3 linked regions of the Homo sapiens genome follow. The protein of the gene in region 3 purifies or fractionates together with the protein of the main gene of each other region. This does not show direct contact. Each region holds a gene or a part of one and is shown on either strand. Other genes may lie near its edges. The genes, in order: TYMS, GULP1 and PSD4.

Evidence for each region.
Region 1: the proteins of PSD4 (region 3) and TYMS purify together in Homo sapiens (affinity purification with mass spectrometry; one large-scale study listed by BioGRID and IntAct). This does not show direct contact.
Region 2: the proteins of PSD4 (region 3) and GULP1 purify together in Homo sapiens (affinity purification with mass spectrometry; one large-scale study listed by BioGRID and IntAct). This does not show direct contact.

Annotation. Positions count from the first base shown.
Region 1 is NC_000018.10:664,136-667,788, reverse strand, and holds part of TYMS (thymidylate synthase), read right to left. Parts: coding exon of another isoform or gene 2,513-3,653; exon of another isoform or gene 1,393-2,512; intron 953-1,392; exon of another isoform or gene 110-952; coding exon of another isoform or gene 37-109; intron 1-36. Other genes in the region: ENOSF1 (mitochondrial enolase superfamily member 1), read left to right, coding at 2,513-3,653. UniProt on the Homo sapiens protein: Catalyzes the reductive methylation of 2'-deoxyuridine 5'-monophosphate (dUMP) to thymidine 5'-monophosphate (dTMP), using the cosubstrate, 5,10- methylenetetrahydrofolate (CH2H4folate) as a 1-carbon donor and reductant and contributes to the de novo mitochondrial thymidylate biosynthesis pathway.
Region 2 is NC_000002.12:188,592,230-188,595,882, reverse strand, and holds part of GULP1 (PTB domain-containing engulfment adapter protein 1), read right to left. Parts: intron 1,944-3,653; coding exon 1,872-1,943; 3' UTR 1-1,871. UniProt on the Homo sapiens protein: May function as an adapter protein. Required for efficient phagocytosis of apoptotic cells. Modulates cellular glycosphingolipid and cholesterol transport. May play a role in the internalization and endosomal trafficking of various LRP1 ligands, such as PSAP.
Region 3 is NC_000002.12:113,190,867-113,194,519, reverse strand, and holds part of PSD4 (PH and SEC7 domain-containing protein 4), read right to left. Parts: intron 2,141-3,653; coding exon 1,931-2,140; intron 1,473-1,930; coding exon 1,392-1,472; intron 1,263-1,391; coding exon 1,150-1,262; intron 929-1,149; coding exon 870-928; intron 662-869; coding exon 572-661; intron 1-571. UniProt on the Homo sapiens protein: Guanine nucleotide exchange factor for ARF6 and ARL14/ARF7. Through ARL14 activation, controls the movement of MHC class II-containing vesicles along the actin cytoskeleton in dendritic cells. Involved in membrane recycling.

The sequences.
Region 1 (3,653 bases), on a different chromosome or scaffold from region 3:
AACTGAGGTGCAGGCAACGACCTGCAGAACACTTACCTGCACAAGTAACTTGGCCCACGCAGCAGCTTTTTTCATTGTGATAAAGTACACATAATATTAAACTTGCCATTTTTGTGTGCAATTCAGAAGCATTAAGCACGTTCCTGATGTTAGGCAACCATCACCATCACCCATCTCCATCACCATCACCATCACCATCACCATCACCATCACCATCTCCATCACCATCACCATCTCCATCACCATCACCATCACCATCTCCATCACCATCACCATCACCATCACCATCTCCATCACCATCACCATCACCATCACCATCACCATCTCCATCATCACCATCACCATCACCATCACCATCTCCATCACCATCACCATCACCATCACCATCACCATCTCCATCACCATCACCATCACCATCACCATCTCCATCACCATCACCATCTCCATCACCATCTCCATCACCATCACCATCTCCATCACCATCACCATCACCATCTCCATCACCATCCCATCACCATCACCATCTCCATCACCATCACCATCACCATCTCCATCTCCATCACCATCACCATCTCCATCACCATCACCATCACCATCTCCATCACCATCACCATCACCATCACCATCTCCATCACCATCACCATCACCATCACCATCTCCATCACCATCACCATCACCATCTCCATCTCCATCTCCATCACCATCACCATCTCCATCACCATCACCATCTCCATCTCCATCACCATCACCATCTCCATCACCATCTCCATCTCCATCACCATCACCATCTCCATCACCATCACCATCTCCATCTCCATCACCATCTCCATCTCCATCACCATCACCATCTCCATCACCATCACCATCTCCATCACCATCACCATCTCCATCACCATCTCCCGAACTTTTTCGTCATCCCTAACAAAACCTCTGTGCCCATTAAACATGAACTCCCCATTCCTCCCTGTTCCCCAGTCCCTGGAAACTAGCATTCCACTTTCTGCCTTTAAGAACTTGCCTATTCTAGGTCCACACAGCATTTTTAAACTTCCTGAAGTTGCTAACATTTAACAGATCTCATGACCGCACATAAAATATAGATTTTAGGCTTTTATTGAAGAATTCTGACATCACCAGGCCCAAATTCCTCCAGGTGGCTGGAGGTGAAATGTGACTGTCCCCTTAGATGAGACACCTGCTCTCCAGGTTGCTGGTCTCTGCCCAGCTAGTAAATTGCACACACAAACCCCACATTCCAAGGTGGCATCTGCTTTTCCTAGGGACAGGTGGGAGGGGCTGGGCTCTGTGACATCCAGTAAGAGGTGACACCAACAGTGACAGGAAAGTGGAAGTCCAGGAGTGAGATGTTTCATTCTTTCTCCACCTCTGCAGAGCTGGGAGTGGAGTGTGACCCTGGCACTGCGCTTCACAGCAGCGCCACCTACAGCACGCTGTGGCTCAGCCTCGAAAGGGAGATTAAAGCCACAACAAAGCAATGGGGGCATTTTGTCCCTTGTCCCACCGATGAACTTCCCATTCCCCAGCACGAACACCAACCATGCAGCTATCTGCCGATGACACAGTATGGAAAGTGCCAAGCGCCCAGTAAGTGCCAATCATCTGACCTACAAAGAGACTTAGACTCCCACACATTAATAATGGGAGACTTTAACACCCCACTGTCAACATTAGACAGATCAACGAGACAGAAAGTTAACAAGGATACCCAGGAATTGAACTCAGCTCTGCACTAAGCGGACCTAATAGACATCTACAGAACTCTCCACCCCAAATCAACAGAATATACATTTTTTTCAGCACCGCACCACACCTATTCCAAAATTGACCACATAGTTGGAAGTAAAGCTCTCCTCAGCAAATGTAAAAGAACAGAAATTATAACAAACTATCTCTCAGACCACAGTGCAATCAAACTAGAACTCAGAACTAAGAAACTCACTCAAAACTGCTCAACTACATGGAAACTGAACAACCTGCTCCGGAATGACTACTGGGTACATAACGAAATGAAGGCAGAAATAAAGATGTTCTTTGAAACCAACGAGAACAGAGACACAACATACCAGAATCTCTGGGACACATTCAAAGCAGTGTGTAGAGGGAAATTTATAGCACTAAATGCCCACAAGAGAAAGCAGGAAAGATCCAAAATTGACACCCTAACATCACAATTAAAAGAACTAGAAAAGCAAGAGCAAACACATTCAAAAGCTAGCAGAAGGCAAGAAATAACTAAAATCAGAGCAGAACTGAAGGAAATAGAGACACAAAAAACCCTTCAAAAAATTAATGAATCCAGGAGCTGGTTTTTTGAAAGGATCAACAAAATTTATAGACCGCTAGCAAGACTAATAAAGAAAAAGAGAAGAATCAAATAGACGCAATAAAAAATGATAAAGGGGATATCACCACCAATCCCACAGAAATACAAACTACCATCAGAGATTACTACAAACACCTCTACGCAAATAAACTAGAAAATCTAGAAGAAATGGATAAATTCCTTGACACATACACTCTCCCAAGACTAAACCAGGAAGAAGTTGAATCTCTGAATAGACCAATAACAGGAGCTGAAATTGTGGCAATAATCAATAGCTTACCAACCAAAAAGAGTCCAGGACCAGATGGATTCACAGCCGAATTCTACCAGAGGTACAAAGAGGAACTGGTACCATTCCTTCTGAAACTATTCCAATCAATAGAAAAAGAGGGAATCCTCCCTAACTCATTTTATGAAGCCAGCATCATCCTGATACCAAAGCTGGGCAGAGACACAACCAAAAAAGAGAATTTTAGACCAATATCCTTGATGAACATTGATGCAAAATTCCTCAATAAAATACTGGCAAACCGAATCCAGCAGCACATCAAAAAGCTTATCCACCATGATCATGTGGGCTTCATCCCTGGGATGCAAGGCTGGTTCAATATACACAAATCAATAAATGTAATCCAGCATATAAACAGATCCAAAGACAAAAACCACATGATTATCTCAATAGATGCAGAAAAGGCCTTTGACAAAATTCAACAACACATCATGCTAAAAACTCTCAATAAATTAGGTATTGATGGGACATATTTCAAAATAATAAGAGCTATCTATGACAAACCCACAGCCAATATCATACTGAATGGGCAAAAACTGGAAGCATTCCCTTTGAAAACTGGCACAAGACAGGGATGCCCTCTCTCACCACTCCTATTCAACATAGTGTTGGAAGTTCTGGCCAGGGCAATTAGGCAGGAGAAGGAAATAAAGGGTATTCAATTAGGAAAAGAGGAAGTCAAATTGTCCCTGTTTGCAGACGACATGATTGTATATCTAGAAAACCCCATTGTCTCAGCCCAAAATCTCCTTAAGCTGATAAGCAACTTCAGCAAAGTCTCAGGATATAAAATCAATCTGCAAAAATCACAAGCATTCTTATACACCAATAACAGACAAACAGAGAGCCAAATCATGAGTGAACTTCCACTCACAATTGCTTCAAAGAGAATAAAATACCTAGGAATCCACCTTAAAAGGGATGTGAAGGACCTCTTCAAGGAGAACTACAAACCACTGCTCAATGAAATAAAAGAGGATACAAAGAAATGGAAGACCATTCCATGCTCATGGGTAGGAA
Region 2 (3,653 bases), about 75 Mb from region 3:
GAGTTTACATAGAAATACAATTTTCAACCAGATCTTCATAAAAACGCACTGGAGAAATAAATGTTCATAATTAATGACCAGTTATGTACTATTTCATCATGCCAGTAGCAGAGTTGATTACCATTAAAAATTGGTAAAGTAACATATCTTAAATGTGCAAATACCATCTTAGTACTCCATTGTGTTACCATTGATAATAAATGGCCACTAAATATATACCTATTACATAAATCTTTTTAAAGTACAATAAAAATACAAATTCTATCTGTTAAAAAAAGCCACTTATATGGCTTCTAAACATCCTTATTATACAAATTCCAAAATACTATCTGACAAACAAAATTATAAAGACTCTTCTTTATGAAACATATATTGCCCTCTAATTAAGGTACAACTTAGCAGATAAAAGAAACTAAACAAGAAGGCTCATATATACCATATAACATTAAGGAAAAACACACAAATATATATTGCATAAGCATATTTGATTTCTTTTCCTAGTGAAAATGTACCTTTAACACTTGAAGAAAATTCCAATGAGTAAATGATAAATCTATTTTTGAGGGCTACCCCTACTCTAAGTCACATTTTCATTAATTTAATTTATTTATCTTATAATGTGATGAACCAAGTTAGAAATTTTGACCATAAATTTTTGTTTTACTGAGTACAAATTAGTCTGTTAGGTAAAGGGTAAAGGTATAGGAAACAAATATTTTTAAAAGTCCAGGTTCATCAGCACATCAATAATGAAATGCAAGAGAATTTTATTGCTCATGTTCAAGACTAAACTGAGCAGTAACTGGGTTTTTTTTTTTTTTTTGGAAAATGAGATTTTTGACTTTAACAAAACAAATACAGATTGAATTTACCAAATATTGATAATTCATGTAGAACGGGTGCCACAGATTTTAAAGTATCAAAACCAAGAGGGCATCACAAAATAAACTTTGGTGAAAAATATCTTCATCAAAGAAGAAAATATGAGAAGAGTAGTCCTTATGCAGTGAGGAGAAATATATTTGGTAAAGTAAATATGGGTAGTAGATACTGAATCTATAGATAGCATATATTCCAAATGTTTTTTAGGGAATATCAAATCAGATGATGCTTAGATGTTATAGTAATATCACTTATCTCATTTGGAATGAAATTTAATGTTTTTTAATAAATAGCAAATTTTCATTTTTTCACTACCTTTATAAAACAAATTAAATATTTAGAGTATAACTGATCATAACTAACATCACCTTGCATTTACTAATAAATACTCTAAATACATTTGGTTTATTATTGGAATTTATATCCTTATAATTTTACCTGCTAGAAATTAGTGACCTTGTGGCATTATGTTTAAAGTTTACATTTTCCCAGTGATGTGAACAGTATTTATACATAAAATGATATCTGTCCAATGAATAGTAACATGTTTGTTGGTTTAAAAACAGAACATGTTTAGTTTGACATTGGCATGTCTCTTCAGAATTTAAAAAGTTATCTTTAAGGTATGGCTTTTGGGAAATCATTAATAAACTAGCCATCTGGAAAATGAATACAAATTTCAAGATGCTAACTAAATAGAACTCAGACACAAGGCAGGTATTTGTATAATATGTCTTTCAATTACAAATTCATCTACAGTAGAAACAGAAAGGAACATAAAAGTATGATCTACTTTACAGTAAGCTGTTTTTAAAATAAAAATTACAGATCAATAGTGAAGGTGAGGAAATTTAACTGAGAAAATTTTCAAAATATTAAAATATTCAAAAACATTGACACATGAATAATACCTATCTTAAAGTAATAATAATAAATGACATGTGTATACAAACACATTTAACATGAATCAGGATTTCTTGTTCTTGATGTCAGCACCTACTGTCTAACGGGTCGAGACAAAATACTGTGCCTTCAAGAGTTAGTCCCATTTTGAACCCCTCCTGTAAAACAGAATAAAATAATTAATATCTGAAATGCTTACAGCAAAATAAAATCAGTGAATAAAAAAGACTATGCACTAAAGTTGAAATATTCATGCTTTGATCAACTAATAAATAACTATATGTCAAATGTTGACTTGCTGAATTTTTATATAGGTGTATAGCACTGGTAGTTCTTTCAGACCCATTAACACTTTAATGTTTTAAATCTATGTGAGGTTAGCATGCATGAGAGACAGAAGAGAAAACATAAAATTAAGATAAAGGTTTCTTTTTCAGAAAAGGCTAGTTACTACATCATTCTATTGTAAATGAAATCTGTTAGCTTTAAAAATTATTATTAATTTAAATATTATTAAGATAGTTAGGCTTCAAATTGATGAGAGGTTCAAGATAGCCTGATGATTTTCACCTTATTCCTGGTTAGCACTGACCAGAGCCCGGGTAAAATACTTCTTTTAAATGCAATGCCGTATCCTCTGTGGAACACACAACTGCAGATTACTTTGCCATGGAGAAAACTTCCCCTACTAGCCTTGCTGTTGCTTGTAGCGGACTGGCTTCTTTGACTCCTACTCTTCCTTGCATATTTTAGAAGTTAAGTTGTCTATGATTTATTGAGTATAAGAACACAATTGCTAAGAAAGTGTTTTTCCACCAAGATTTTGAATTAAAATAATGGCATAGGAGTCTGTCCTCCTTCACTCCAATCTCTTTTTTTTTTATTGCATAAGATAATTGAACTGTGGGCCATCTCCAGTCTTGCCACCTCTCCCCATTCCTACCCTTTCCTGTAAATCTATACACATTGGCCTACAAAAAGATGAAAAGCACAGACTTGCACTGATCAATGAAAGTGGAGGTTACATTGTAGGTCTCCTTGTAGAAGCAAATGTGGTAGTGCTCTCTACATACTCTACCTTTTTTTTCTTACTAACAGAACTGAAATGTTTCAGAAAGGTAATTTGTAATTTGGAGTGGCCATGCAACACATTATTGGCAAATAATATGCAGATAGCAGTGTATTCCTAAAGAAAACAAAATGTCTCCTAAAGGTAACCATTGGTTTTCACCTCTGCTTTGGGTGTTTTATTTAATTGGACTGACTATATCTACTTGTATGTTAGCTAATTGGGTATCTTTTTGCATCTCTCCAAATTACTTTTATTTAGAATAATTATGTAAATGTTCTTATCTTTCTATAAATCCAATGTAAACATCATCATATAGAGGAGGAAGGTAGTTACAAAGCTGTAAGCCATACTTTATTTGTTATTAATGTTCAAAGAATATTCTTTATGTTTACAGCACAGAGACTACTACTATATAGCAATTACAGTGATGTAATCATTGTGAAAGTTTTTCAAAATGTCTTTCCAGTACTTGGAATACAATCTTTATTTAGTTGAGTAAATATGAGACTACTTATCATTATTTTTTAAAAATCTATTCTTATCACAAAATACATTTTGCCATATTTATTTATATTTTTCAAACAGCCAGCAAATACTTAGAAAAATAAATACTTTAAACTAAAATACTGTAAGTAAACTTTTCTTTAAAATTATTTTATTTGGATATCTGAAGATCTGTATATTATGTCATCTTCTGGTATATTACAAATGGTAAATAGATGATACATTGATAGATAATGACAGATAGAAAGAGAGTTACATGTGGAAATGTTTGATACCATACGGTACTTTTAAA
Region 3 (3,653 bases):
TTCATCGTTAAGTGATGCGTGACTGTGATGAAACAGCAAATGATTTTAATTGCTTATGACACACATGCTATGTGCCAAGCACCGTGCTGAGCACTTGGAAGATTTCATTTCATCTTGATAATGGCATGGTAAGTGGTTAATACTCTCAGGAAGAACTTGAGTTGGCCAAGAGGGGGCAAATTGCCCAAGACTAGAATTCAAACCCAGGAACACCAGGCTCCCAAGTCTGAGCTCCAGACTTTCACCATGTGTAGCTTTGCCCTTCTCAGACTTTGAAGGGGTAAGAATGACTTGAAAACTTAAGAAAATATTTTAGGGGTCCCAGTCTCAGAGAGTCTGATTCAATAAGTCCAGCACAGGGAGCCTGCAGATTTGCATGGATAACAAATTCCAAGATGCTTCTGATGCTGCCCGCCAGGGAATACACTTTTACTAGCCCTTCAATAAACAAGTCCTGTTCTCTCAAGGATATTTTGGCAAAGCCAGTCCCAAGCTCAGCATCTCCCTTGGAACAAAGAACCAAGGCTCCAGGTCCTACATGAGGCTCATAAGAAGACCCCGTGGCACATACCTTCAGCAGCTCCTTGGGGAAGTTCCCGCCATCCCTCAGCCCATTCAGGTTGGTTATGAATTCCTGGCAGCTCATGCTCTTCCCAATGTTCTGTAGCCACGGAGAAGTGGGATGACTCGAGCACACACCCCATCCCAATAGAATAACCTCCCAGCCAGCAACCATGGAACCCTTTCCAGCTCCCCAGGCCCACATCCCTCAGGGGTGTTCCCTGCCCGGTCTCAGGCCTCTGGTCTTCTCCTCCCCGCACCCCTTGTTACAGCCTCAGTTCCCACAGGGACTCTCTCCACCGTCTTACCTGTCCATGCAGGTCCGTGTTAAGCAGCATGATTGCACATGTCAAGGTGTGTACAGAATCTACCCCAGAGATAGGTAAGTGGAGAGAAAGCTCATTGGAACCAGGGCTCCTGTTTCCTCTGCCCACACTGCGTGGGGTAACCGAATAACCCCTGGAATGCTTCCATTCTCCACAGCCCCCAACACACTCCCACCAGTTCACTGTCACCTACTGAACTCCCAAGCAGACATGGGCACCCCAAAGTTTCCCTGCTTTGCTGTCAGGGCCAGCCCCTCCCTACCTACTGAGGGGAAGATCCCCGGATTGCAATGGTGGAAGCGTCTGGAGAACTGGTAGAGGATTCGCTCCCGTTCCTGAGTCTCCCCACTGAGCACCAAGGCCTGGAGGAAGCTCCTGCAAAGGAGGGCCAGGGTCAAGGAGAGAGCCCGGGAGCTTAGGGCCAATCAGATCCCAGCCTCAGGCTGGTGCCACTGCCCCATGCCATCCTCCACAGCCTCCCCAGAGAGGGCCCAAAGACATTACCGGAGGGCTCGGTCCAGACTCTGGCCTCCAAACTGGAAGAAGGACAGGTACTCCTCAGCCACAGCCCTGCTAAAGTCATTGCTGCAGAGGGAAAAGGGGCATGGAGTCTGCACCAGGGGCCTGGGCTGGGGCTGCAGATGCACTGGGGCCCCCAGGGCCTGCACACATTATGCGGTGGGGGTGAGCAAGGGAAGGGTGCAGGCACGCTGGGCCTTGGGTCCTGACAGAGCAAGGGGGCAGCCAGGGTCTGGTATGCCCTGCTACCCTATTCAGTGTACACTGGGAGACACTGGGAGAGACCTGTGGAGTCTGGTTGGCAAGGCAGTGGGGACCAAGGACCAAGGGTGTGGAGAGCATGAGGACCATGACTGAGAGTAAGCAGCAGATACAGTGAGGGTATGGGGGAAAAGTTAGGAGGGGAGATGGGAAGGGAACAGGGCAGGGACGGGAAGGGGAGGGTGGCCAGTGGAGGGAGCCCTTCAGCAGCTCCTCCCTGGCTGCCTCAGCCTCCAGCCTTCCCCAGGCTCAAAGCCCCTTACTTCTTCTGCAGGTAGGCAGCCACTTCAGACTTCCGGAAGCCCTCCAGGCGATAGAGGCGTGAGGCCAAGTTCCAGGCTACCTTGTTGTTCCTGACGCCATTAGCTAGCTTGTCTCCAGCTGGTGGTCTCTGGCCTTCCTCTGGGGACTGTGCTTGGGGCATAGGGCTCCCAGGAAGCCAAGAAGAGTTCATCGGTGTCCTCAGATTCTCACTTGAGATAGACATGCAGGAGCTCTGGGTCAAGTGTTCTTGCAGGTCAGTTGTGGCAAGAGTTCCCCGAGCTCAGCGCCTTGAATGGTGGGGCCCGGAGGAGCTGGACCCAGGCCCTTACTCAGGGAAGAGACAGAGTCACAGCCAGACTGACTTAGCCTGGCCTGGGACCAGGAGAACCCCGAGAGGAAGGTATTCATGCAAGGTCTCCAGGTCTGGGGTCCTGCGCTTTCTCAGGTAAAGCACAGCCATGTTCCGAGTTTATCTCACCTCAGGTGGCAGGTGCATCCCTGTGAGGCCCCTAGCGTTGTTTTCTCCAATGCAAGGCACGTGGGATTGTCTCCCTCACCTGTCCTGTGGTCCTCCTGTACCTCCTTGTCCCTTCCCCACCTCCCAGCTCTGGCTCTAGCCTCCACTCCTAGATCTGGAGCCAAGAAACCTGTAAGGATGAGCTGAGAACAGGAAGCTAGGTGGGCTCTAGTAATGGCAGCAGCTGGGGTAGTTCAGGAGGTGGTCCTCAGCCTCTCCCTTCCCCCACCTAGCAGCCTGGATGACAAGGAGACTGAGTGGTGACCTATGACCTAGTGTGAACAGGCCTGGGTGACCCCCAGCCGACTCAGAACCTCCCAGTCCAGCACTAAGACTCTCAGATGTCACTCAATCCAATCTAAACCTGACTCTTCTGCTTCCCCGACAACATTACAATCAAGTGTGGGGTATTCCAGTTATTTAAACATTCATTATTCAAGTGATACAATTAGGAAGTTGAACTGGTAAGCAGAAGACATCATAATATGAAAACATTCCAGGGGCCTGGGCGCAGTACTCAGCCTGTAATCCTACTGCTTTGGGAGGCCAAGGCAAGTGGATCACTTGAGGCCAGGAGTTCGAAGCCAGCCTGGCCATCATGGCGAAACGCTGTCTCTACTAAAAATACAAAAATTAGGCAGGGTGGCACATGCCTGTAGTCCCAGCTACTCAGGAGGCTAAGGCAGGAGAATCACTTGAACCCAGGAGGCGGAAATTCCAGTGAGCTGATATTGTGACACTGCACACCAGCCTGGGCAACAGAGCAAGATGCCGTCTAAAAGAAAAAAAAGAAAACAATCCCTGATAAACAGATATATAACATTAGAATTCACTTAAACACCCTCACTATCTAACACAGCTGGGTCAGGGTTAATGGGAGGGTTAACCCCATGCCCATCACAAGGTCTTTGGGTGATGGTGACAGAATGTCAATCAGTGCCAGAAACCAAAGAACCATCTTCCTTATGCATCTGGAAACTAGGCTGCCCCGTGGAGAGGTTCAGAGGCTTGGTAGCCAGAGAAGTTCCAGCCTCTGAAAAGGGAAGTTTCTTCATGCCAAAAATTAAAGTTCACCCAACCCAAAATAGAAGTAACTAAATCTAACTAAAATGAGAACATACTTTCATAGTAAATAATGAAAAGGTTTACTTGGAGCTTTATCTTGGTAAATGTACAAATAAGTTTATTTAAATCTTATAGTAAAC